Linked DNA regions of Homo sapiens. The protein of the gene in region 1 purifies or fractionates together with the protein of each later gene. This does not show direct contact. Each region holds a gene or a part of one and is shown on either strand. Other genes may lie near its edges.

Region 1 (7,215 bases):
AAAAAAAAACAAACCCCAAAAAACCTAAGGACTTCTTAGATAAGGTAACATTTAGCTAGGTGATTTTGGGGGCTGAGAGTAAACTCTGGGGCATTAGACTCCTCCTGGCCTACCATGTGATGCAGAGAAAACTGCTCTCCTTTTTGTTTGGGCCAGTTTCCTTTCCTCCAACTTAGGGGGATCCGCACTTACACCACAAGACAGGCAGGGATGAGGGGTCCAGGTCAGAGCTGTGAAGAGTGATAAAGTAAACCAAAAGCCCCATTTTGTTCTGAGTTGGAACCACACCCTCCTCCACTGCCCCAGGAGGAAGTGAGCCCAGCACCCTAGTGGGGGAGGGTGACCTGCTTCTTCCCCTGAGCTTATTTCTTTGACTTCATTGGAGCAGCTGCTTTGAGCCCCGCCTGACTGCCTTTGTTGCTGGGGCTCAGGTGAAAGGGCTGGCTGGTGAAGGGAGTCAGCTGTGAACACAGAGACCCATGGAAACAAACAGCTCACCCAGCTTCCTCTTGGGCTTCTCACTCCAGGTGGCTGGGGCAAGCAGGGAAATGAAGATACTCACCATAGCAACTACACTGGGACCTATAGAACAGGGCCTGACCTTATTCCTGTTTCCCTCCAGCTTGCCCACGAGGCTCAGTGAAGACTGGTGCTCAAATGACAGATTGGGTTGATGAAGGTGCCCTCGGACTCCCCAGATTCCCTGCTCTGACACCCCCTTCCCCCAGGAGGTGCTCCACAACTTTCCCCACCCCAACGCCCAGGGCACTGTATTAGCTCAATCCTCAGAGCAGCCCTGCAAGGTGGCTGCCCTTATTTCCATGTGAGATGAGTAAGAGCCACACTTACAGGCACCAAAGCTGGTAGTATTTGCTTTGCACTGCTGCCCAGCTCCTCAGTTCGTTCTTGCTGTTTTATCAGCCCCAGGCACAGACAGGGCCTTTCACAAGGAAAGTTCTCACAGGCTGATTAAACAGTACTGAGAAGGCTCAGGCAAATGGTATCCCTTCTCTGGGCATCAGAGATATGATGACATGAGTCTGTCACATTCCTGACCTTGAGCTGGGTTGCAGGATGTTGTGAAGGCCAGAGAAGAATAAGACCCAGCTGCTGCCCAAAGACAAGTGCACAGAGGTTCAGCTGCCATATTCTGAATGTTGCCTTGGGCTTGCCAAGTCAGGTCCTTCAGAGGGTGGGTAAGATGGCCCTACTAACAGCAATTAAAATGCAGGACTAGAAATAGTTAATCCTATTTTACAGTCCCCAGCAAATAACCAGTTTCAGAGCCGGGCTGATTACCAATCTCGGTTTCAGGGATAGTCAAAAGCTAGCATCAATATGAAGTTAGAACAATAGGTTCCTGTCCTAGCTCTTCTGCTGGCTCCCGGGATGACTTGGGGCCAATCACTGTTACACGTGGGCCTCAGTTTTCTCCTTTATAAAATGGGGACCAAGATCCTTGGCTTGTCCGAGTCAGCTGAAGGGCCAGAATGAGAGCGGGGAGGTGTGAGAGTGCTCTGTGAACTGGAAAGAGCCACTTCACTGTCGGGGGTGGGGATGGTAATTATTTTTGTTAATGCCCTGCTGACTCCTGCCCCTAGACCACAGGGTTAGGAGGCAGCAAGAGACCTCTTCCTTGGACTGGACTCTTACCCGGCTTTGTAAGGTCTCACGGTGAGGCCTCCAAGATCAAGCTTCTCTAAAGGTGTCCCGTTCTTCAAAGCTGCCAGTGGCTATCATGGCCCGATCCCCTTGGTTTTCCATAGAAAATGGGTGGGAGACGAAACACCTAATGGTCATACTATGTGTCCTGTGGGTGAGCAAAGGCAGAGAGTTTAGAAAGGGCCACCTGCCCCAAGACACACAAGCCCACCCAATCCATGCCTTGGAGGGGGATGGGGAACAGGGCCCAGGGACTGGTTAAGTGCACACACTGGAAAGGGGAAAAGCAGGGCGGAAAATGAACCTAGGTACACTCCCCACCCCCACCCCACCTGCTTAATATCACAAATTGGTTCTCATCCAGACTTCTGCTTTTGTAACACTCAGTACTCTATATAAGCACCCCCTAGCACAGTCATCAGACTTTGGTGAGTGGGAGAGTTGTGAGGGGGTCACGATGGGACAGAGACTCTCCGGGAATTGGCTAGGTCCCAGGTCGGGCTGTGAGGAGGTTGGAAGGGCTGGGAGCCGGCCCTGCAGAGGCCAGATTGAGCAGCTCAAAGCCCACTAGAAAAAGCCCCCAAGCCCTGGGAAAGGCGGTGCAGGAACACTGCCTGGAGCTGCCTGGTAAGGGAGAGGTCATTGTGGTCATCGCTGATGGTCCCCATCCAAGGCAGGGCTCGGCATCGTGGTGGAAAGGAGGGAGTGAAAAGGTGGAGGCTCAAACGACAGCCAACTGAACGGGAGAGGGAAAGAACAAAAGGGACTAAGAAAAAGAGAGAAGAGAAATAAAGAACCAAGGACAGAAAGGATTAGCACAGGCCGGACCCGGAGGCTCATGCCTAAAATTCTAGGACTTTGTGAGGCCGAGGCGGGCGGATTGCTTGAGCTCAGCAGTTCGAGGCCAGCCTGGCCAACATGGCGAAACCCCATCTCTACAAAACACAAAAATTAGCCAGGCGTGGTGGCGGGCGCCTGTAATCCCAGCTACTCGGCAGGCGGATCGCTTGAACCTGGGAGGTGGAGGCTGCAGTGAGCCGAGATCGCGCCACTGCACTCCAGCCTGGGAGACAGAGCGAAAGCCTGTCTCAAACAAACAAACAAAAACAAAAAATAAAACCGAGAGAAAGAAAAGAGTACAAACTTGGGTGGGAGAGAAGGTAAATGGAAGAGCGGGCAGCGCACGCAGAACAAGCGTGGGGGGCGCAAAGGGCGCAGGGCTGGGGCCAGGCTCACCGAGCCGCAGGGAGAACACGGCAGTGCGTGCGGCTGTGTCTGTCGGCTGGCGGAGGGCGCGTCGGACGAGCCGGGCGAGCGTGGACAGTCAATCCCAAGGCGCGCGCAGCTGGGCTTCGCAGTGGGGCTCCGCGCAGGCGGCGGCGCGGCTTAAGCCTCGGGGGCGGGGCCCGGGGTGGGGCCTGCGGGGCGGGGCCGGGCCTGCCAGCTCCTACTTGGGTGCGGAGACCCTGGAGCAGCCGCCTTTCCGCGGGGACCGCCCCGCCTAGGGTTCTCTCCATGACTTTCTCCACTCCCGTTTCCGTGCGTCCCATCACCGCGTTTACTCCTTCGTTCCCCGAGATGGTCACTCCCTTGCCACTCCCCGCCTCTGCCTCACACTCTCTCGGGCCGCCAACCTCTGTGAGGATGGCAAGACTGACCGCCAGAAACAAGTCTTGTCCAGTCACACACCTCTTGCCTTCCCAGCCAGGACGGTTTCTAACAGCGTCCAGCGGGGCCGTGTCTTAAGTGCACTTCCTCTTTTATGGGCCCAGCCCCCCTACGCTGGGCAAACTACCCACCCTCCTGCGAGCGAGCGCGCGGCTGGCTCCTGCAGGGCGGGACTGGGGCCTCGCGACCGGCCTCGCTGTCGATTGGTTACAGCCGCCGCGTTGTCGGGGGAAGGAACCAATCAGAACTGCAGCAACAGGTGGCCCGGCAACCGACAACAGCCGTTGGGCTCGGCTGGGGTTCGCGCCTTCTCCCCCGGTGGAGCGGCCTGGCGTTTAGGGACCAGGACACTAAAGGCCCCGGCGGGGCGGGAGCACCCAGCGTGACCTCACGCTCCTACACACAGACAAGCAAACGGGCCGGCCCCCGCACGTGACAAGGCAGAGCCGGGCCCAGGCCAGCTGCCTGTCCAGCCCTGGGATGAGAAAAGGCGTCAGGAGATGGACCGGGCCTGGTTCGCCTTTAATTGGCTGACCCGTCCTGTGGGGGTAACTGACGCGTGAACAGCCAACAATTGGGCCCTCTGGCCGGGACAAACACGTGCGTTTGGGGAGTAGAAGAAGGCTGGTATTAACCTCCATTTTACAATGAGGAAACGGAGTCCCAAAGACGTTCAGTCATCTTCCTGATATTCACACACTTACACCCTGGTCAGGCCGGCGCCATATGTGTTTTCACCAGCAGAAGGGACTGCCAGGGAACAGCTGAGGGGACCAGAGCTGGGATGGGCCTGGATAATTATAGCGGAAAGAAAAACACGCCGAGCGCATGGTCCTGGCAGAAGCAGCGTGGAAACAGAAGTCAAGGCAGATTATTTCTGCCATGAGGAGATCTTGCCATGTAGGAAAAAAGAAAGAAAGAGAGGAAAGAAAGACAGAGAGAGAGAGAGGAAAGACAGAAAGACAAGAAAGAAAGAGAAAGAAAGAAAAGAAAAAAAAAAAGAAAAGATAAAGTTTTTTTGTGGCACTGTGAGTCTCCCTCCGCCAGGTTCTCTAGCTTTTGCGCTGAGCTCTGTCTGGCTGTGCATTCCGGAGAGGCTCGGCAAATTTGCTGTGAGATTGCTGAGCAACAGCAGAACAGATGCAAAGGCCTGCAGACCAAAAATTGTCCCCCTGGCTGTCCAAACAGGGAAGAATCTGGATTCCAGAAACTATATACTTATTATCCTTGGCAAAAGAGACTGTTAAAAGTGTGGACGCTGAAAAAGGGAAGTGGAGATCAACAGGACGCAGCATGAAGTCCTTAAGAAGTCCTCTTTGAAAAAGAAGATGTGTTTAGGGTTTAAACTATTTTTATTATTTATTTATTTAACTTATTTTTTGAGACAGGGTCTCTTTTTGTTGCCCAGGCTGGAATGCAGGTGGCTGGGTCTCAGCTCACTGCAGTCTTGACCTCCTGGGACAAGCAGTCCTACTTCTGCCTCCCTAGTAGCTGGGACCACAGGGATGAGCCACTAAGCCTGGCTAATTTATTTATTCTTTGTAGTGACAGGTCTCCCTATGTTGTCCAGGCTGCTCTTGAACTCCTGGCCTCAAGCAGTCCTCTGACCTCGGACTCTCACAGTACTGGAATTACAGGTGTGAGCCACTGTGCCTGGCCTCAAGAAATTCTCTTAAATTCTTTCAGGGTGGGGGCAGATCTGAGCAATCCTATAGACATACAAACGCTGCACCCTTGGATTTTTAGCAGCTTGCTCAAGTCATAAGATGTCCTGTGGACAAACTGGAGAATGTATGGGTACAGATAAATGTATTTTGAAAACTTGTAGCCAGGTGAGGTGGCTCACGCCTGCAATCCCAGCACTTTGGGAGGCTGAGGCGGGCAGATCACCTGAGGTCAGGAGTTGGAGACTAGCCTGGCTAACATGGTGAAACCCTGTCTCTACTAAAAACACAAAAATTAGCTGGGAGTGGTGGTAGGTGCCTGTAGTCCCAGCTACTCGGGAGGCTGAGGCAGGAGAATCGCTTGAACCCGGGAGGCAGAGGTTGCAGTGAGCTGAGACTGCGACATTGCACTCCAGCCTGGGCGACAGAGCAAGACTCTGTCTCAAAAAAAAAAAAAAGAAAACTTGTTTCACATCTATTTCATTGAATTGTGTGTACACGCACACACACACACGTTTATTTGTAAATATTTTGTATGTGCCAATAACCAAATTGACAAAGTTTCATATATTTTGTTGTATAATTTTAACATCATCCCAGGAAACAATCCACTGTGCTTACAGTTTTGGAACTTCTAAATCTTTAAATACAAACTGTATTTGAAACACTGAAAATGAAAAAAAGACACAAGAATGAAAGAGAAAACTGAAAACATTAGGTAATTAAAACCAACATGAGAAAAACTTAAACATTTCCTTAGTCTCTGATAATTTCTGCTAAAAATATTGAGTAGATTGGCTATATTAACTTTCCTCCCCTCATCAAACAAGCATACAGTTATCTGATTGCATTTTTAAAAAGAAGTCGAATTTGATAACCATACATTTTAAAAATTGACATGAAACTGAATTTCTTTAAACCCACTTAGCAGATGAGATGGGGCACGGTGGCTCACACCTGTAATCCTAGCAGTTTGGGAGGTTGAGACGGGTGGATCACTTGAGGCCAGGAGTTGAAGACCAGCCTGGCCAACATGGCAAATCCCTGTCTCTACAAAAAATACAAAAATTAGCTGGGCATGGTGTTGCACGCCTATAGTTCCAGCTACTTGGGAGGCTGACATGGAGGATCACCTGAGCCTGGGAGGTTGAGGCTGCAGTGAGCCATGATTGTGCCACTACACTCCAGCCTGGGTGACAGGGTGACCCTGTCTCAAAAAAAATAAAAAATACCTGTAATCCCAGCACTTTGGGAGGCCAAGGCGGGTGGATCATGAGGTCAAGAGATCGAGACCATCCTGGCCAACATGGTGAAACCCCATCTCTACCAAAAATACAAACATTAGCTGGGTGTGGTGGTGCTTGCCTGTAGTTCCAGCTACTTGGGAGGCTGAAGCAGGAGAATCGCTTGAACCTGGGAGATGGAGGTTGCAGTGAGCTGAGATCCTGCCACTGCACTCCAGCCTGGCGACAGAGCAAGACTCCGTCTCAAAATAAAATAATTTTAAAAAACCTCTTAGGAGATTAAATTGAATCATATATTTGTTAATTTCCATGTCCATTTTGATGTTTGTTCTTCTTCTTGGTTTTGGTTTCTGAAAAAAGGGTGGGGAAATGGTGACACAAAGCCAGATGGAATTACTTGACATGTTTGTCACATAATTAACCATTGTAAATGAATTTTCCTTGGTAACACATCCTGGTTTTTTTTTTTTTTTTTTTTTTTTTTTTTTTTTTTTTTTGAGATGGAGTCTTGCTCTGTCGCCAGGCTGGAGTGCAGTGGCGCGATCTCGGCTTACTGTAACCTCCATCTCCCAGGTTCAAGCGATTCTCCTGCCTCAGTCTCCCGAGTAGCTGGGATTACAGGTACGTGCCAACATGCCCAGCTAATTTTTGTATTTTTAGTGGAGATGGGGTTTCACCATGTTGGCCAGGATGGTGTCTATCTCTTGACCTTGTGGTCCACCTGCCTCGGCCTCCCAAAGTGATGAGATTACAGGTGTGAGCCACCGGGTCTGGCCCACTCCTGTATTTTAAAAGTTGAATTGAAAAACACCGAGTTAAAAGATGCATTTTTTCCCATGAATTGTGTGAATGAAATAAAGCTAAATTCACAAAGCATGAACATAGCAGTCGTTCTCATTTTGCTCACAGTTCTAAAAATGCAAATTCTCCCCAACTTCTTAGAGCATGACAGGTGTTCAGCTGGCAATCTTTCCATG
Region 2 (7,025 bases), on another chromosome or scaffold:
AAATTAAACACCCCTTCATGCTAAAAACTCTCAATAAACTAGGTATTGATGGAACGTACATCAAAATAATAAGAGCTACTTATGACAAACCCACAGCCAATATCATACTGAATGGGCAAAAGCTGGAAACACTCCCTTTGAAAACCACCAGCACAAGACAAGGATGCCCTCTCTCACCACTCCTGTTCAACATAGTATGGGAAGTTCTGGCCAGGGGAATCAGGCAAGAGAAAGAAATAAAGGGTATTCAAATAGGAAGAGAGGAAGTCAAATTGTCTCTGTTTGCAGATGACATGATTGTATATTTAGAAAACCCCATCTTCTCAGCCCAAAATCTCCTTAAGCTAATAAGCAACTTCAGCAAAGTCTCAGGCTACAAAATCAATGGGCAAAAATCACAAGCATTCCTATACACTAATAATAGACAAACAGCCAAATCATGAGAGAACTCCCATTCACATTTGCTACAAAGAGAATAAAATACCTAGGAATACAACTTACGAGGGATGTGAAGAACCTCTTCAAGGATAACTACAAACCACTGCTCAATGAAATAAGACAGGACACAAACAAATGGAAAAACATTCCATGCTCATGGACAGGAAGAATCAATATCATCAAAATGGCCATAGTGCCTAAAGTAATTTATAGATTCAATGCTATCCCCACCAAGCTACCATTGACCTTCTTCACAGAATTAGAAAAAAACCACTTAAATGTCATATGGAACCAAAAAAGAACCCGTATAGCCAAGACAATCATAAGCAAAAAGAACAAAACTGGAGGGATCATGCTACCTGACTTTAAACTATACTACAAGGCTACAGTAACCAAAACAACATGGTACTGGCACCAAAACAGATATATAGACCAATAGAACAAAACAGAGGCCTCAGAAATAACACCACACATCTACAACCATCTGATCTTTGACAAACCTGAGAAAAACAAGAAATGGCAAAAGGATTCCCTATGTAATAAACGGTGTTGGGAAAACTGGCTAGCCACATGCAGAAAACTGAAACTGGACCCCTTCCTAACACCTTATACAAAAATTAACTCAAGATGGATTAAAGACTTAAATGTAAGACCTAAAACCATAAAAACCCTAGAAGAAAACCTAGGCAATAACATTCAGGACACAGGCATGGGCAATGGCTTCATGACTAAAACACCAAAGGCAATGGCAACAAAAGCCAAAATAGACAAATGGGATCTAATTAAACTAAAGAGCTTCTGCACAGCAAAAGAAACTATCATCAGAGTGAACAGGCAGCCTAGAGAATGGGACAAAATTTTTGCAATCTATCCATCTGACAAAAGGCTAATATCCAGAATCTACAAGGAACTTAAACAAATTTACAAGAAAAAAGCAAACAACCCCATCAAAAAGTGGACAAAGGATATGAACAGACATTTCTCAAAAGAAGACATTTATGCAACCAACAAATATATGAAAAAAGGCTCATAATCACTGGTCATTAGAGAAATGCAAATCAAAACTACAATGAGATACCATCTCAAGCCAGTTAGAATAGCAATCATTAAAAAGTCAGGAAACAACAGATGCTGGAAAGGATGTGGAGAAATAGGAATGCTTTTATGCTGTTTCTGGGACTGTAAATTAGTTCAACAATTGTGGAAGACAGTGTAGCGATTCTGCAAGGATCTAGAACCAGAAATATCGTTTGACCCAGCAATGCCATTACCGGGTATATACCCAAAGGATTATAAATCATTCTACTATAAAGACATATGCACACATATATTTATTGCAGCACTATTTACAATAGCAAAGACTTGGAACCAACCCAAATGCCCATCAATGATAGACTGGATAAAGAAAATGTGGCAATATACACCATGGAATACTATGCAGCCATAAAAAAGGATGAGTTCATGTCCTTTGCAGGGACATGGATGAAGCTGGAAACCATCATTCTCAGCAAACTAACACAGGAACAGAAAACCAAACACTGCATGTTCTCACTCACAAGTGGGAGTTAAACAATGAGAACACGTGGACACAGGGAGGGAAACATCACACACCAGGGCCTGTTGGCAGGTGGGGGGCTGGGGGAGGGATAGCACTAGGAGAAATACCTAATGTAGGTGACAGGTTGATGGGTGCAGCAAACCACCATGGCACATGTATACCTATGTAACAAACCTGCACATTCTGCACATGTATCCCAAGAGAATATAATTTTTAAAAAATTAAAATAATAAATGCATAAGTGTTACTCATTTATTGAAAAATAAAACCTGAAATGTACTGGATTCAGTCATAATATGTCCAGATATTCTTATATTTTTCCAATATTTAAAGAAAATTAAATTTGTTATCTCCAGGCATTATTTAGGACTGAGGATAATTAGACAATTTTTGAAATTCTATCAATTTTTGAGGTCATTACAACTTATCACTAATTGGGTAATAGCAAGGTGATATGAAAATTTTTCTATTGAAGTCATGTACTTAGAAAAGCTTGTTCAGATCAATAAAAATTATATTCTACAGTCAATTTTAACTATAACAAGTATATTGTAAATGCATATCACTAGTTGCTAGCAAAAAAAGATGAAAAGAAATTAATATTATAGCCCATATTTACTAACTCATTGCTATCTCAAAAACTGTCCCTAACTTTCCACTAATGGCAGCATAATAGCTGAGGGTGTTCCATTCAAAAGAACCATGTCAGAACTTTTAACTTATCTACTTTCAGTCTGACAACTTTGTAAAGTAGATGTCACACCTAATTAGCAGATAGAAAAACTGAGGCTCAAAGAAGTTAGCTAACCTGTCAAAAATTACATGGCTACTAAGTGGAGAAGCAAGGAATCAAACCCAAAGAATGTAAGCCCTCAGAGACTGTATGTGCAAAAGAACAAACTGACTAGCTAGAAGTGGAATCACACCTTCAAAACTGTATTCCAGATTAACGATTTTACATAGTAGAAATATCTAATTTTGAAGATCTCTATTAAAATGATTCTTAAGTTCTTTTTTAAGTTATTAAGTTTCTTTTTAAAAATAAATATTTATAAAATGACTAGTCTAGCTATCAAAATATCACTACCATGGGGGAAATGGGAGAAAATTTTCTGGGATAAAAGAAACTAGAGACATAACAAGTCACTGCAACACACGGCCCTTAGTTGAGTCCTGGTAGGAACAAAATGACTAAAAATATTTTTGCCAAAATTTGAGTATAAACTCAATTTTAGATTATATGTTTGAATTATTAATATTGTTATAGGTTGATGGTGTTGTGTTATAAAAGAAAGGCTTTTTAGAGAGAAATGCTGAAATAGAGAGTAGCTGTTACAATTTCTGTAGTTTACCTTAAGATACTTCAGCAAAACAACTAAGATATATAGCAAAATGTTAAGAATTATGAAAACCAGGGAATGAGTATATAGTTCTACTACCCTCCTCACTTTTCTATATGTTTGAATATTTTTCAAGACAAAAAGTCAAAAATTGTTTTTAATTACTTGTATTTAAAAATTCAGTGTTGATTTTTTGGCTTTAAATACTGCCCTGCACCAGTACTTGGCACCACAGTATTTTTTTTAAATCCTCTGTCCTTTATTAACTTGTCTTATTGACAAGGAAATATGGTGTTCCATCACATTAACTGTCAGAAGGCAATCACTCTGCTTACTTTGAGAGCCCAACAGGAAAGAGTGGATGATCTGTTCCTGTTGGGAGGACCTGGGCCATGGTTGTTTGTTTCTCCGTAAGCGCCTTCAATTACTGTTCCACTACTCATCAAGCACATAAGTTACTCATTGAGAACCTCTGATCGTCACTGTGCTCATCAGGAAGAAATTGATGCACAAAGAACTACTGTCAATCTCAGCAAACCACAACTATTCTTTTCTTTAAAAGTAAATTCCTTGACACAAATGACCTTATCTTAAATCTAATAGATTTCCTATTTCCAAAAAGCTCGACTGGAGTGTTATAAAACCTGAAAATTCTCTTGTGCTTTCTCTTCTTTTGCTTCTAGTTACCATCCTCAAAGGATTGGCTAAAAGCAAGCAACTGGATTGAACACCCTAAGAAGAAAGATTCACACTGCACCAGGTATGTGGATACTTTAGATAGGTTCTAATATAAACTAAACAGCTTTCAAGTAATATACATATATTAAGTAATAGCAATAGTTGTTCTAATACAGTTATTCTCCTCTCTTCTTATGAACTGCCAAACAGTGTGGTAACACTCAATTCATATGTTATTAGAACACAATATGATTGGTAGGAATGTTTTTTGGTCTTGAAATTTAAAAACAAATCTGACAATATATTAGGAACCTGAAGAATAATAAGTAACCATTTCGTTTTTCAATTGGGTCAGATTGTTTTCTTCTTAGTGTGCTAGTACTATAATAATACCACTGAGACTTTATTATGGATAAGACATTATTCTCAGTACGATTTGTAATATATATATTATTCCAGTCAATCCTCAGGACATTCTTATGATGTAAGATTGCAACTCACTCAAAGTCATGCAGTGAGTGGCAGAGTCACACAGTAAGTGGGCAGAGCTTAAATCAAGTCTCTGACTGACTCTAACACCCATTTTATAAACCATGGGATTGTATTGTAAAGTGTGTCTAATCTCACAGCCCACCACATTGACATGCACACTAATTACCTGCCCTAATATGTAATCTGTCTATATGATTTAACCTTTATTTTGTTTTCTAAAGCTGATAAGCTGACATGTACACATTACATATATAACCAAAATGAGAAAAACAAAAGACCACATTCTTCTCTCACTCTTCCCTTCTACAACCTATAGCCAAAATACAATTCTCTTTTGCAAGTAGTTATTCAAAAAAAATATGTATTAAGTCTGCACTATGTACTAGGCATGATGACATAACAATGAATAAAGAATAATTCCTGTCATTTTGGGACTTAGAAAAAGGGTATCGGCCAGACACGGTGGCTCACACCCGTAATCCCAGAATTTTGGGAGGCCGATGAGGGTGGATTGCTTGAGCCCAGGAGTTCAGGACCAGCCTGGGCAACACAGTGAAACCGTGTCTCTACAAAAAATAAAAATAATAATAGCAATAGCCAGGAGCGGTGGTGCATGACTGTAGTCCAAGCTACTAGGGTGGCCAAAGTGAGAGGATCGCTTGAGTCTGGGGGGTGCAGGCTGCAGTGAGCCATGCGTGTGCCACTTCACTCCAGCCTGGACAACAGAGCGAGACTCTGTCTCAAAAAAAAAAAAAAGGTACAAGAAAAAGGATTATCAAATGGCAAAATCTTCAGTAGAATGAAATTGGAGGAAGAGTCCATTTGACCTGGTTCTTTGTTCCAAGTGACAGCCTTATAGCACAGCGACAAAGAGCATTTTCCTCTAACATCAGGAGTCTTTGCAAAACTGTGTAGTATCAGGTCATTTATATGATGGTTCCCCACAGAGGGGAGCTTCCTGAATTAGAAAAGAAATAAGAAGAAAATTATTTCCTTTTCTTATTGCTAAACTTCCTAAGATCCTGCCTTTCCTAGCCAATCTTTAATATCAATAGAAAATGCTCATTTTGCAAACTAGTTAGAATAATTCTTGAGCCTCCTCCATTGCTTCCTCTCTAAAAGAATGCATTTTAGGCCTGAAGCAATTTTGCATCACCCCTATGGAATGAAAATGTATACATAATTTTCAGAAACCATTGGTCTCTTTTTGCCTGTACTTTCTAATAAAAATAAGTTATTTACCAAAACGCATTCCTCTCCCATAATATCATAACTAATAGTACGCCACATTTCTGCTTTTCCCAGGAGACATCAGAAAGAATGAAAACTCTGCCGCTGTTTGTGTGCATCTGTGCACTGAGTGCTTGCTTCTCGGTAAGTATTCACCCAAATAAGTTTTTTCCTTAACTATCAATAACAAACATTTAGTGTACCTACCTGAGACTTTTAAAGCATAATAGGCAACCCCTATTTCCAAGAAGCTTGACATCTTTTATTTCCAGGAAACCTATAAATATGGACAATTGGCCGGTGCACTGGCTCACACCTCTAATCCCAGCACTATGGGAAGCCTAGGAGGGAGGATCACTTGAGCTCAGAGAAGTTCAAGACTAGCCTGAGTAACATAATGAGACAGTATCTCCACAACAACAACAACAACAAAATTTAATTAGCCAGGTGTGGTGGTGCGTGCCTGTAATCCCAACTACTCGGAGGCTGAGGTTGGGATCTTAAGCCTGGGAGGTCAAGGCTGCAGCAAGCCGTAATCATACCACTATGCCACAGCCTGGGTGACAAAATGAGACCCTGTCTTAAAAATATATACAGATAGGTAGATAGACTAGATAGATAGGTAGATAGACTAGGTAGGTAGGTAGGTAGGTAGGTAGATAGAGCATAAGGAAATAATTTGTTTCATTTATCCAATATCTATAGAGCACAAACTTTATAGTGAGTGTGATGAGAACTGACACAGATGAAAACCCAGGTTTGTAAGGCCTTTAGGTCTTGGTGTGGAATATGGTTTCAAATCTGTCAGGAAGTCTCAGCATGATCAAAGCACTCCCAGGGGATTTACATGACAGGATTCTCAGGAGAAGATAGGTAGCAGGTAACAAAAGCTGAGATAAGGAGACTAGTCAGGAAGCTATGGCAGTGGTCCAGATAAAAGATGATGGTGACTTGCACTAAATTTCAGCAATTAAAAGATAAGAGTGGGTTTAGGATATATTTTAGTGATTGAGTCTACTATATCTTCTGCTGGATTGTATATGTGGTAAAAGAAAGAAATGAACAGGCCGGGCGCGGTGGCTCATGCCTGTAGTCCCAGCACTTTCGGAGGCCAAGGCAGGTGGATCACCCGAGGTCAGGAGTTCAAGACCAGCCTGGCCAACATGGTGAAACCCCGTCTCTATTAAAAATACAAAAATTAGCTGGGTGTGGTGGTGGGCACCTGTAATCCCAGCTACTCAGGAGGCTGAGACAGGAGAATTGCTCGAACCTGGGAGGCAGAGTTTGCA
Region 3 (7,152 bases), on another chromosome or scaffold:
CAGAAACCCTGCCTGTGTGCACATCCCCAGACAGCCAAGAACTCAGAGGGAGGTGATGCTACTGTTTAATTGCAGGAGGTGGGGGTGTGTGTACCATGTACCAGGGCTATGAGAAGCAAAAGGAAGGAGGGAGGGCAGAGTCCCCTGCTGAGCAACAAAGGCCTCCTGCAGCCTTCTCTGTCTTCTCCTGCTGCAGGTGCATGGGGAGACCTCCCACAGGGTGGGGGCCACCAGTCCAGGGGTGGGAGCACTACAAGGGGTGGGAGTAGGAGGTGGTCAGTGTGACTCCCTGGCACAGATCCCTAGGCTTCTTGACACCTGGAATTCACCAGGGACATTCTGTCCTCCCAGGGAACTTCGTAGATCTGGAAAGAGCACAACTGTTTCTGTGAAAGGGAAGAGAGAGGGCCAATCAGTGTGAGTTACAGTTAAAGGGGAAGTCACCCAGGCATGAGATGTCACAGCCTGAGTGAGGAGGATGGAGGTGAGACACTGGGCCCTCACCCACCCCTGCTGAGTCCCAGAGCACTGAACTAGAATGAATAGTGACTGTTCCATTGCCCCTCCCAAGGCTCCAAGTCACCAGGTGGCATTGGGCCCCCACCGCAGCCTGCAGTGTCCTGTCCCAGCACAGCCCTGTGAGGATCAGCCTGTGCAAGACCTTGGGAGCCCCAAGGGTGCAGGGCATGGGGAGGTGGCTCACTTCCCCCAGCTCCTTCCACCTCCAGCACTCAGGCCAGCACTAAGAGGGGCCAGAGGGAAGAACCCAGAGCAGGGCAACTCCGCCTCAAAGAGCTGGGGCATGGGGCAATGGTAACAAGGGGAGTGTGGCTCTCCCCTGAGTGGAGACCTCACAAGAACCAGCAGGTCCCTGGAGAGGCTGGTGTTGGGTGAGCCGGGCAGGTCCAGGGCTTCCCAGCTAACAGGCCTCTAGGTCCCACTAATCTGATCATTGTGTCTGTGGCTGCATGCAGGTACCTGAGGCTGGGATTAGACAGAGCCCCTTCTCCCTGCCCAGCACACAGCCCCACAGCTGCTTCTTCCTGTCCAACAGGCAACACCCCAAAGCAGGCAGAGTTGATCTCCCAGTAACCATTCCCAAGCTGAAGGCTTCCTAGCAAATCAAACACATCACCCTCCTCCCTCACCACCCCATCTGCACACACATAGGCAACTACGTAAACTCACTTGGACCCCTCAACCCCATGGATCTATGTACAAACCCCCAGAATCCCCACACACAGGCACACATGCTCCCATACAGCTCCCTGCACACACTGGCACATGTGTGTACACACATGCACCTTTCCACATGCACATCTACATGCACAACCCTCCACAAGTACATGAACATGTATACATCCATGCATACATGACTCCCCACATACCCACCTGCACACACACACCCTCCAAACATGTGTAGGGCAGAGACTGACACATACGCACCCCTCTGCAGTGCATGACTGGCCTGGGACCCGCATCAGGAACGTACCTTCTGCAGTTCTGGCTGTTCATGGAAGGCACAGGTGTCCAAGTTGGGCTGGGACTTGGTACATATGGTTCGGCCCACCTCTATGTCGAAGAAGTAATTCACCCCGCCCACGATCTACACACATGAGAAAACAGGATGCACGGACAGCGCCCCCATCAGTTCATGCACTCACAGGCACTTCACTGTGGCTGAGTCACTGGACTTGCTTGGGGGCTTCGTGAGCTGCCCACATGTCAACACAAGGCACACAAGCCCCCTCTTCCTGTCAGCTGGCAGGGTGCTGGGCCTCATGCCCCCTCTTAAATATTGTTTTCTCTGTGCTGGGTAAAAGGATTCATTGAATTCTGCCACCTGTGGCTCAGGGGCAAGGGAACACTGACTCTTTTTACCCATGGGTGTCAGTTTACCCATGTATAAAATAGGCGTCCGGGCCTGATGGTCTGCAATGCCCTGTGCTTCACTCCAAGTTATTGTCATGCTTGAAAGGGAGGTGGAGGCAAGCGGGGACCATGGCACCAGGGAGTGCACCTCCCGTGCAGGGTGAGGGTCCCAGTTGACAGCTGCAGGAGGAGAAATGGGGCTGGTCTGGATTCCTTTGAATTTCCAAGAGAAGGTGGAGGAGCTCTAAAGCCTGTGTCACTATTTGCTGCTCTGCCATGGGATGCAGGTAAAGCTGGGCCCAATAGCCCTTCTGAAGCTCTCTCTTGACCTGACACCTCCTCCTCTCTACTGGGTAACTGCTGTCCTCATCTGGCTGAGGTCTAACTCTGCATCAACTCATAGAGGCAGGGTCAGGCGTGCTCCACCCCAGCAGGGACTCAGCTGCCCTGGGCTGTAGGGGGTGGTCAGCCGGCCTGAGGGTGAAGGCCATTAGCCCTAAAGGGCTGTACCCACGGGTGTGACTTGGGGAGTGAAGTAGGGCTCTGCAGAACAGGAAGCGAAGTTCCTGTGTGGCCCCTGAGGAGAGGACTCAGGGAGGAGGGTGAGCCTCATGGCCTGGATCTCATCCTGAGCAGCATCAAGCCCATCCAGAGTCAGCATAGTCTCCATCCCCCGGGAGCATGCTTAGGCATGAAGGCCATAAGCAGAGAGTCAGGGAAAGCTGAATGAATCTGAGCATTAGATCATGAATGTATCAGTGTTGATGTGCTGCGAATGCTCTTATGGATCGGGCAACAAACAAGGCTGGGACTCAGGACCCCTCAGGTGGAGGCAGCACCCACCTGCTCCCTGGCTCGTAGCACCCGCAGCAGGCGTCTGTAGTACTCATCTTCAGTGGCCTTGTTATACTCGCTGATGACAAAGTGAAGGGCACGCTGTACCCGCTCATCATTGAGGTCTGCATCATAGATGCCACCCTCGATTATCCTGTCCTCCTCCTGGGGGCTCCAGGCCAGGGCCACAGCCTGGGTGGCCAGCAGGAGCAGCAGGGTGCACAGGGGCCAGGCCATGGTCTCCTCGGAGGCAGAGCACAGAGCTGGAGCTGCAGGAGAGGAGGTTGAGAGCCTGAGGCGGGGATCCCAGACCAGCAGGCAGCTGTGCATTTATCCTGCTTTGGCAGCTCAGCCCCACCCCCCTCCATGACCTGCCCCTGACTCCTCCTCCTCTTTCTGCTCATTCCCTCTTTCTCCATCTCTCTTTTCACTCCTCAGAAACCACAAGATCCCTCCCTGCCTAAGTTCTCCCTGCCCCTCCCAGGCCTCCTCCTCTATCTACCCCTCCTCCCCACTCCTGTCCTCACTGCAGCCTCCCCGAGCCATGCCTCTCTTCCCCAGTGCTCCCAAGCTTGAGTCACCAGGTCTCCACAGAGATGACACTTCTCCTTTGGCTATGAAAACAATGTGACCTCCTGTTTGCTCAGAAAAGTGAAAAATACAGGGCTTGGCCTCCGGGGTCTTCAGATATCAGAGGCATCCAGGAGCACTTGGTCACGGTCTCTGAATCTCTGGAACAGGGAGGTTATTTCAGAAGGTTCCAGAAGACCCTGTCCACACCCTATTATGGAGAATTTCTTTGCCAAATTCAAGGGAATTAACCTTTTTTGAAAAGGTCACTGGGTTCTCTTTTCATAACTCATTATTCAATAAAAAAACTTATCACCAGCTACTCCCCGTGCCAGGAGGTCTAGGGCTTGAATACTGAACCTGGATGATGAGCCATAGAGGTGACATTGCAGAGCTGCTGCCCACAGAGATGTGACATGAACCCACGAGCATATGAAAATGTGTAGTAGATGCATTTTAAAAGATGAGAAAAAATGGGTGAAAGTAATGTTTAAAATATTTATCTAACCTAATACAGCCACAATATTATTTCAGCTAATAGGAACTATTATTAATGAGATTTTTTTTTTGTTGGAGGGGTTTTGTAAATCTTTGAAATTCGCTGTGTATTTTTTACACTTAGCCTGGGAGTCATTTTGGACTGGCCCCATTTCAAGTGTCCCGTGGCACATGTGGCAGGTGGCTATGAAACTGTACAGTCCGTTCCTACACAGTGTGTGTAGGGGATGATAGGTTATGGTCAACAATTAGGATCAGGGAGTTATACTCACTCTGTTGGAAGTGAAATAGAACAGGGGCTAGAGAGAGACCACTGGACCCTGGTCAGGGTGGTCTCTATGAGACTGGAGAGGTTGAGAAGCCCCAGGCATTGGGGAACAGCCAGTGCAAAGGCCCTGAGGTGGGATTGGGACATGCCTGCTCCAGGAAGAGGAAGCTCCTGGAGGGGATGTGAGCAGGGAAGGGAATGACCTGGTGTCTCATGGTAACTGTGGGTGGGGCCCACAAGGTGCAGGGAGACACCTGGCAGGCAGTGGGGGTGTCAGAAGAGGGAGCAGAAGCCAAGGGATGAATGTGGGAGCCCACAGGCCTCACTTGCTTCTCTCCTAGGCAGCCATGCTTCCAGCTTCTTTCCTCTATGCACTGCTTGGAAGACCCACCTGATATTTTAAAAATTGCCTTGAAGGAGGTAGAATTTACATACAGTAAGATGCCTAATAGTATGTGCCCACCTGGAAGATTTTGTAAATACATACACCTGTATTACCACTTTGTCCAGACCTCTGACATCTGCCTTGCCCCAGACGGTGTCCTCCTGCCTCTGCAGCTCATCCTCGTGCCCACCCCACCCTGGCAGCCCCTGTCCAGTCCTGTAGACTCCTTTGTCACCTGCCCTTGAGATTCCCAGGAATGGAATCCTGCAGAGCAATCCCAGATGTGTCTTCGTCCTTTGCTCAGCGTGGCTTTCCAGTGGCCCCCAAGTTGCTTCATTGCCAGGATTGGGAGTTCTCCTTCTCCACAGACTGAGAGGACCTAATCACCACAGTGCTCTGTGGGGTGACAAAGTCTCCAGCTTGGGATGCTGTGGGCCTGTGCTGGAATGTGGCTCCAGGATTGGGGAGGATGGAAGGAGGCCCTGAACAGACAGCTGCTCCCTTTGTTCTCTCAACCCAACCCTCCATGCCTGAAGGTGACCCTGTGGCAAATGCCCTTGTGGTGAGGTGGAAGGCTTGGTGAGAAACACCAGGAAACCCTGGGCCTTTGCATGGCATCCAGAGGACTCTCCTGGGAGTAGTGGAGGTGAGGGTCAGACAGAGTCAACCCAGAGCTGCTGGGATCCTGGGTCTCAGCCGTGGCTGGGGCTGCATCAGCAGGACCCGGCAGCAGGAACAATATTACTCATTGGTGTTCATGTTCAGTATTAGGACAGGGGACCTTGTTATCCAAGGCCCAGTGACCATTGCACACCACTGTCAATCCAGCACACCTAGAAAAACCATGCATCCCAGCAGATACAGCAGGTGTCCCAGGGATGGTGTTTACCGCTGGGTGATGGAGGGAAGGTCTTCAAACAGGGCTGCGCAGGATGGCTCCTAGTTAGACAGGGAATGGGGATAAATTCCCAGAGAAGGGAGAGAGAGGGAAGTCCCTTACCAGGTGTTTGTGAGCAGAGTGGTCATCTCCAAAGGGTAGGACTTAGTTCTCCTCTGTGGCTCCCACCTTCCTGGGATAGCTGGGAGTCCAGACTCAGGAAGAGCTGCTGTGCAGAGGATAAGCTGAAGGTCAAGAAATCCTCTCATTTTTTTTTATCACTGGAAAGGAGATGCAGGTTGAAGGGGTGGCCTGCCCCTCCACACCTGTGGGTATTTCTAGTCAGGTGGGATGAGAGGCTGAGAAAAGAAATAAGACACAGAGACAAAGTATAGAGAAACAACAGTGGGCCCAGGGGACCGGCGCTCAGCATACCAAGGACCTGCACCGGCACCGGTCTGAGTTCCCTCAGTTTTTATTGATTATTATCTTCATTATTTCACCAAAAAGGAACATAGCAGGAGGGCAGGGTGATAATAAGGAGAAGGTCAGCAACAAACATGTGAGCAATAGAATCTACGTCATAATTAAGTTCAAGGGAAGGTACTATGACTGGACATGCACGTAAGCCAGATTTATGTTTCTCTCCACCCAAACATCTCAGTGGAGTAAAGAATTACAAGGCAGTATTGCTGCAAACATGTCTCGCCTCCCACCATAGGGCAGTTTTTCTCTCATCTCAGAATTGAACAAATGTACAATCGGGTTTCATACTGAGACATACAGTTCCCAGGGGCAGGCAGGAGATAGTGGCCTTCCTCTATCTCAACTGCAAGAGGCTTTCCTCTTTTACTAATCCACCTCAGCACAGACCCTTTACAGGTGTCGGGCTGGGGGACAGTCAGGTCTTTCTCATCCCACCAGGCCATATTTCAGACTATCACATGGGGAGAAACCGTGGACAATACCCTGCTTTCAAGGGCAGAGGTCCCTGCAGCCTTCCGCAGTGCATTGTGCCCCTGGTTTATTGAGACTAGAGAATGACGACGGCCTTTATCAAGTATACTGCTTGTAAACATTTTGTTAACAAGGCACATCCTGCACAGCCCTAGATCCCTTAAACCTTGATTTTATACAACACATGTTTTTGTGAGCTCCTGGTTGGGTCAAAGTGCCTGGGGCAAAGCTACAAAATTAAGAACATCTCAGCAAAGCAATTATTTAAAGTACAGGTCTTTTACAAAATGGAGTCTCTTATGTCTTCCATTTCTACATAGACACAGTAACAGTCTGATCTCTCTTTCTTTTCCCAAACAGGTAACCCAAATAGTGAGAATTTGCTGGTGGGTGGAGTGTGAGGGAGGGAGGCCAAAGTGCTGATCTGTGCCGTGTATGTGATGACACCACCAGTGGTCATCTTGTGTCAGGATGCTGGCATGCACTGCAGGGAGGGTCAGCTGTCCTGATGCAGCAACCTCTCTAATCTCAGTAGGAAAGATACCAATGTATGTTGCTTTTCTGAGGAGGTACAAGTGCGATGTCCAGTATGGAGTGATAGGAAGTGGCAGGTGGGGGTAGCTGGCCAGCTGCTCCAGATGTTTGATGACCTTAGGCAAATGTTGTGTCTGTTGTGCGTGTGGAGAAAGAGGCTACTTTTTAAAGCGTATTGTCTGGGAGTTCAGACCAGCAGAGATGAGCAGACTTTACCAGTGATGTAGCAACATGTTTGAAAATGATGGAATAGCCAGGTGAGGTGGTGCACCTGTAATCCTAGCTAATTAGGAGAGTGAGTCAGGAAGATTCCTTGAATCCAGGAGTTCAATTCCAGCCTGTGAAACACAGTGAAAC
Region 4 (6,869 bases), on another chromosome or scaffold:
GCAAAGTGGCAGGATTTAAAGAATTACAGACTTCTATGGTTATACATTGATTTTCACATAACAAGCTTTGGTGTTTAGTTAATGTAGCATTTGTTAGCCAATGGTGTCTTTTGGTGTTCCTTAGAGTTACATTAGAGTCAGCTTGGGCTGACATAAGTTTTTCTTTTAACTTATAAGTCTTGTTGTTGTAGAGACCTCTATTTAAAAGGCTCTCGGTCACCCCCTTTATAACTCCATTCAATGCTTTGGCTAACACCACAAAGTTTGGAATCTGCAGTCTGCAAAAATCTCACAGCTCCTAAATGTTCTCTTATTTGCCTCCTGGTTTTAGGTTCTGGTAAGCTGCAGATGACCTGCTTTCTTGCTGACCATAGACTGCACTCCCCTTTTCAAATAGTGAATCCTAGGTAGTGTACCTGCTGTCTGCAGATCTGAGCTTTCTTTTTGGGCACTTTATATCCACAGTCCTCCAGGTGTCGAAGCAGGGCACCCGTCCTTTTTGCACACCTGACTGCCATGGAGTGTCCTAGCAGAAGGTCATCTACATACTGGAGCAGGATGCAACCTAGGTCTTTAGCAGGAAACATTTGGAGGTCTCCAACCGAGGCCTCCCGAAAGATGGTGGGGGACTTTTTGAACCTTTGGGAAAGTCGAGTCTAAGTGTACTGAATGGTGACATCTGACTCCGGATCTTCCTACTGAAAGGCAAACAGCTTTTGGCTCTCAGGAACTAGCCTGATGTGAAGAAGGCATCTTTCAAGTCCTGTACGGGTCGATAGTCTTTGGTCCTTGGTTTAGGGACAGGTAGGAGGTGGGTGTTCCATGGAGACTGGCAAGGAACTAGAATTCCAGAGGCTTTTAAGCATATAAGATGAGTCTCTATTCCTTTAAAGGCTTCCCTGGGAACAGGATACGGCTTTTGTCCAATTGGCTAGGTCGTAGGCTAAACTTCTATGAGTACGGGGGCTTGATTGATTGCCAGCCTCAGAGGATTGTCCTCCATCTCTACTCAGAGCCGTCACTCAGCTGGAGCCACTTTTATTTCCTGAGCTGGCTCAGTTAGCAAAAGTCTCCACTCTTCTTCCTGGGGGACTGGAAGGGCCATGATGACTCCTGTTTCTGGCAACTCCAGCTGTAAAGTGCCTTGTTTTGTCAAGGAAATGGTGGCTCTTAACTTGCTAAGCAAGTCTCTTCTCAACAAAGGCAAGGGACAGTCAGACATATACAGAAATGGATAAATCACTTTGTGTCCTCCCACTGAGCAGTTGCGCGGTAGACAGAAGTCCTGCTTGGTAGAGACTCCTGTTGCTCTAATTCTATCAATCGTCTTTATAGATGAGGGGGCCACTGGAGTGCTTACTACTGAGTGTTCGGCTCTTGTATCCACTAAAAACTTAATGTCTTTGCCCCTTATTGTCATCCTGACCATGGGCTCCTTGGGGGCATTTGAGCCTGTTCCCCTTAATTCTAGCAGCCCCTCAGCTAGATTGAACAAAATCCTTTCATCTTGGTTTGAGGTCTTTGGCTCTGCATCACTCTGATTTTCTTTGAGTTGGGGACATTTATCTTTCTAATGTCCTATTTCTTTACAGTAGGCACATTAGTCATGCTGCAAATGTGAGTGATTGGACAGGGCATTCCTCCCAGAACCCCCTTTTTTCTGCCTTTTCAGGAGAATTCCTCTAATTGTCACAGCCAGCAAACTAGCGTTTCACCTGGCCTGGCGTTCGCCCTCCTTACGGCTTTCTTGGCCGCTTGTTGCATCTCTATTTACAAATACTTCATTAGCTCTTTCCAGTAACTGCAAGGTTTTCATTCCTGCAAACCTAGCCTGTTTTTGCAATTTTCTCTGGATATCTTCTGCACTCTGAATAACTAAGGCCGTATTAATCAACGGCTGATTTTCAGGACTCTCCAGATCGAAAGGAGTGTACATGCAATAGGCCTCACACGGTCTTTGATAGAACTGGGCTGGGCTTTCCTCCTTTCCTTGGATGACTTCAGAAACTTTATTTACATTGGTACCCTTTTGAGCCCCTTTTTTCAACCTTTCAATTAATGCCTCTCGGTACCCTCTTAGCCTTTCCATATCTGGTCCTTCATTTGGATCCTATTGAGGGTCCGTTCCTGGCAGCTGAATTCTTATGTATTCTTGGGGACTTTGATAATTGGCTGGGATGTGCTCCTCCAGCCATTTAACTGTTGCCTGCAGCACCTGTTGCCTTTTATGTGTTTTAAAGAGGTACATGAGTAGCTGGTGGCAATCAGCCTAAGTAGGATTCTGAGTCTGGATAATTCTTTGAAGCAAGTCAATTAGGGCTTGAGGCTTTTCAGTGTAAGATGGAGTGTTATTTTTCCAGTTGAGTAGTTCAGCAGAGGTAAAAGGGTGATACACAAAAGCATGCCTTTCTACCGTATGTCTGACCTCATCTGTCCTAGTATATCGCTGCTCTCTCAGGGCATTTGAATTCCCGTCTTGGGCCGTTAAGCGGGCTGCCAGGGAAGTGGATTTTCCCGCAGTTTCACTTTTGTTCTTGTCTACTCTGGGTGGTCTAGGGGCTGTGGGCTCAGGAGAAGGGGGCCTCCCCACTGGATAAGGGGTTGAGGGCACTGTTGGTGCCATCTCCTGCCTTGAGTCCTCGAGCTCTGGGTCAAACAGAACTTTAGGTGCTGGCTTCTCTTGGCCGGTGGAGCGAGAACTTTCCTGAAATAAATGTCCCTTTGCTACTACTACTGCTGCTGCCTGTCCTTTTACCACTGTAGAGGATCTAAAACTAGCTGTAACTAGGAATCTCTATATGGAAATTGATATGGGTGCAGGCACACCATGAGCGATCAGGCCAAGCTTCCGCTCAGGTGGAGTGGGGCAAGTTGAAAAGACTTGTCTTACTAAGTTTCAGATGTCTGGACTCCAAGTGCCAGTTCCTTCCTGGTGTTCAGCCACTGTGTTAATCCTCCGCGGGGATCACTGCTCTGGCGAGGCGTTCAACCGGGGCCATTTCCTACCTGGGAGCGCTCTTTGGATCCCATCCCTCAGGCTGGCCAGAGTCCCTGGCAGCCTGAGGGATGCCCCGGCCTTACTCCACAAGGCATGCCTAATCTGCCTAAGGAGCTGCCTCGGCCGTCCATCAGTTATCTTGCTTCCAGGTCAGGGAACCAAGAAATGTAGCAGGACAAGCGGCAGACAAAACTCTCAGACACCGAGTTGTAGAAGGAAGGGTGTTATTCACCTGGGAGCATCGGATAGCTACTGTCTCAAAATCCGAGCTCCCCAAGTGCACAATTTCTGTCCCTTTTAAGGGCACACAGCACTAAAGATGTCACATGAAAGGGTCGTGATTGATTTGAACAAGCCAGGGATATGCGACAAGGACTACATGCACCCGTGGTCAGGGAGAAACAGAATATGGAAGGGAGTTTCACAATGTTCTTCTATACAATGTCTGGAATCTATGAATAACATCGGCTTCTAAATCATAAGTTGATTTGTAACTACTGGGTTTAGGCCAACCAGGCCCAGGCCTGGTTTTGTGCCTTTGATTTTGCTTCCTTGTTGTTTTTACTGAATAGAAAACAATATAAAACAAGAGGACAGGGTCTTTCTCTCTTCTCAATATCAGCACTGGATTGTAGAACTTGTTGCTGATTTTGGCCTGGCATTCAAGTTAACTCTTCCCCTTGGTATCTGTACATACCTTTGATGTCAGTGTTTAGTACACGTGGCTTGGTCACTTCATGGCTAAAAACGTGCTTGTGGAAGACAAGTCTGGCTTGGTGAGTCTGTGTGGTCAGCAGTCTCTGATCCGTGCAGGGTATTAATGTGTCAGGGCTGAGTGTTCTGAGATTTATCTAGAGGCTGGGAAGGGCTCCTGAACCAGTTGTTTCCGTCTTGTCGGTCTGTCAGGGTTGGAAAGTCCAAGCCATAGGACCCAGTTTCCTTTCTTAGCTTACGTTATCTACCAGAGCACCGTGGGCTGTTACTTGCCTTGAGTTGGAAGCGGTTCGCATTTATACCGGTAAATGTATTCATCCTTTTAATTTATGTAAAGTTTTTTAGTATGCAATTCTCGATCTTTTAAGAGTTGACAACAAATTTTGGTTTTCTGCTGTTATGTGAGAACATTAGGCCACAGCAACATGTCATTGTGTAAGGAAAAATAAAAGTGCTACCATATGCAAAAAAAAAAAAAAAAAGAAAAGAAAAGAAACATTAATGTCTAAGAGGTCATTGAGATGATTTCCATGAGAGACTTTTTGATGTTCTTCACCAGTTAGGATTATTATTGATAATCCTTTTCAGATTATGAATAAACAGTTTGCCCTCAAGTATTTATTCATGCTACTATTTACATTGTAAAATGTGCTTCTTACAGGAATATAAATAGTTTCTGGAAAGGACACTGACAACTTCAAAGCAAAATGAAGCTCTTTTGGTTGCTTTTCACCATTGGGTTCTGCTGGGCTCAGTATTCCTCAAATACACAACAAGGACGAACATCTATTGTTCATCTGTTTGAATGGCGATGGGTTGATATTGCTCTTGAATGTGAGCGATATTTAGCTCCCAAGGGATTTGGAGGGGTTCAGGTGGGTATGATTCATAGTATCAATTGCAGAATTCACTGTGCTTGTAGTAAACACTATTCTGATCTTCTACGTGAAGCTTGGGCAACATTTTACTTCACAGGTAAGTATTCTAAGTAAAAGAATTTTCTGAGGAAAAAACAATGTAGTATTCTTTGCAACTGTATATTTTGTTTCTGATATAATCTTTCTTCAACAAGAGCCCTCCGATGTGCTGTTAATATTTTCAAGAGATAGCTGCCTATACCAAGATTCAAGAATCTTTTGTATTATTGATTAGATTCTAGAACATTCAATGATATACAGTAAGACAGAATTTGGTACTTATGAAGACTGTTTAATTTGTAGGTCTCTCCACCAAATGAAAATGTTGCCATTCACAACCCTTTCAGACCTTGGTGGGAAAGATACCAACCAGTTAGCTATAAATTATGCACAAGATCTGGAAATGAAGATGAATTTAGAAACATGGTGACTAGATGCAACAATGTTGGGGTAAGTGAATTCTAGTTTCCTTTAAAAATAACAGATAGGAAAATGATTTCTGTCTCTTCTTTCTTGCTCCTTTTGAGCAGAAAGTTTTCCATATCAGTTTTAATTTTACTTCATACTTTAAAACTCAAAAGTAACTGTCACCTTATGTTCAATTTTTGAAAATATTTGTATATGTGCTCTCTACTAAAGAGATAAGTTAAAGTTTATAGCAGAGTTTACTTCTGAAGCAAAACATCAAATTTTAACCGCTATAACTATCCATATTTCCTGGAAGGATTTTCTGGTGAGGAATTTTAATTCCAGTTACAATATTTGCTCTCATTTTTAGATGACTTGTGTCTCCATTCCTAATTCTTGGGTTTTTTTTGTGGTGAATAGGTAGCTTATCTATTTAATGAGGAGCAGAATTTGAGATGAATAGCTACCTTATTTGTCTTCCAAGCTTAGTAGAGAGTACAGGCTTTCTCCTGGTGACCCACTGAAATTTCCCAAATAGTAACCTTTTCAGTCTCATCTGAGTTGTGTCTCCCCAAAATGGGCTTTTTGCCTTTCCTCCTATTTATGGTAGTTTCCGGTTCTCTCAGTTTATCATTCCTATATATATTTGGCCAAGTGTCTGGAATGAATGTAGGTGTTTAGTTCACATTACTTTCCTTTCACAGTTGATTTTTGATCTTGTAGGAAAATAGTTATAAGGTATGAAATATTTTGGAATTTTATTAGCACACTATAAATTTAATCAATAATTCTTTAAATTTCTGCCTCTCTGTAAGTCACACTGAATTAGAAACTTTGTTTTCTAGGTTCGTATTTATGTGGATGCTGTAATTAATCATATGTGTGGTAATGCTGTGAGTGCAGGAACAAGCAGTACCTGTGGAAGTTACTTCAACCCTGGAAGTAGGGACTTTCCAGCAGTCCCATATTCTGGATGGGATTTTAATGATGGTAAATGTAAAACTGGAAGTGGAGATATCGAGAACTATAATGATGCTACTCAGGTAATTTTTTTACGAGAGTGATCTGAATAAGGAGTGATATATGCCTTTTGTTGTAGACATGTAGCTAATTGAACTTCGTTGTAAATATGAATTTAGATCTCTTAGGGACAGAGGTTAACAAGTTTGACTACTTTAAGAAACTCAAATCCATATTTGAAAACCTTTAAATATTGATTTAAGATTTTTAATCAATACACATTTGTCCACTTTTAAAAAGCTCCCAACCAATTGAAAAACTCATCGACTTTATTTCCTAAGTTCTCTATTTTCTATTAGAAAATATTTCCAAGATACATCTATAGTAGAATGTGAGCATCCCCAGTGTCCAATGCAAGGAAGTCACCATAGAATATCTCTTGAGGAATCATGGAATAAATGAATAATCAAATGGATTCTCAGGCGAAAAGTGAGGTTTTATTAATCAATCATAACATTCTTACCTCAACAGGTCAGAGATTGTCGTCTGTCTGGTCTTCTCGATCTTGCACTGGGGAAGGATTATGTGCGTTCTAAGATTGCCGAATATATGAACCATCTCATTGACATTGGTGTTGCAGGGTTCAGAATTGATGCTTCCAAGCACATGTGGCCTGGAGACATAAAGGCAATTTTGGACAAACTGCATAATCTAAACAGTAACTGGTTCCCGGAAGGTAGTAAACCTTTCATTTACCAGGAGGTACGTCAATACATATAGGCATATAAAATATCATCCTATTCATTAGAAAATTCACGGCAGATTCAATTAAAAATGCAATTTCTGTAGGATAAAGACTGAGTCATTTCCTT

The links.
Region 2: the proteins of UCP2 (region 1) and MUC7 purify together in Homo sapiens (affinity purification with mass spectrometry; 3 studies listed by BioGRID and IntAct, with this or other methods). This does not show direct contact.
Region 3: the proteins of UCP2 (region 1) and CST2 purify together in Homo sapiens (affinity purification with mass spectrometry; 3 studies listed by BioGRID and IntAct, with this or other methods). This does not show direct contact.
Region 4: the proteins of UCP2 (region 1) and AMY1C purify together in Homo sapiens (affinity purification with mass spectrometry, with the first as the bait; 3 studies listed by BioGRID). This does not show direct contact.

Annotation. Positions count from the first base shown.
Region 1 is NC_000011.10:73,979,823-73,987,037, forward strand, and holds the start of UCP2 (dicarboxylate carrier SLC25A8), read right to left. Parts: upstream 3,022-7,215; 5' UTR 2,899-3,021; intron 1,811-2,898; 5' UTR 1,654-1,810; intron 1,108-1,653; exon of another isoform or gene 850-1,107; intron 231-849; exon of another isoform or gene 114-230; intron 1-113. UniProt on the Homo sapiens protein: Antiporter that exports dicarboxylate intermediates of the Krebs cycle in exchange for phosphate plus a proton across the inner membrane of mitochondria, a process driven by mitochondrial motive force with an overall impact on glycolysis, glutaminolysis and glutathione-dependent redox balance.
Region 2 is NC_000004.12:70,468,196-70,475,220, forward strand, and holds the start of MUC7 (mucin-7 precursor), read left to right. Parts: upstream 1-4,001; 5' UTR 4,002-4,096; intron 4,097-5,811; 5' UTR 5,812-5,826; coding exon 5,827-5,880; intron 5,881-7,025. UniProt on the Homo sapiens protein: May function in a protective capacity by promoting the clearance of bacteria in the oral cavity and aiding in mastication, speech, and swallowing. Binds P.aeruginosa pili.
Region 3 is NC_000020.11:23,823,718-23,830,869, forward strand, and holds CST2 (cystatin-SA precursor), read right to left. Parts: upstream 3,013-7,152; 5' UTR 2,944-3,012; coding exon 2,716-2,943; intron 1,607-2,715; coding exon 1,493-1,606; intron 387-1,492; coding exon 303-386; 3' UTR 52-302; downstream 1-51. UniProt on the Homo sapiens protein: Thiol protease inhibitor.
Region 4 is NC_000001.11:103,746,051-103,752,919, forward strand, and holds the start of AMY1C (alpha-amylase 1C precursor), read left to right. Parts: upstream 1-3,847; 5' UTR 3,848-4,016; intron 4,017-4,373; 5' UTR 4,374-4,419; coding exon 4,420-4,587; intron 4,588-4,932; coding exon 4,933-5,079; intron 5,080-5,882; coding exon 5,883-6,080; intron 6,081-6,528; coding exon 6,529-6,759; intron 6,760-6,869. UniProt on the Homo sapiens protein: Calcium-binding enzyme that initiates starch digestion in the oral cavity.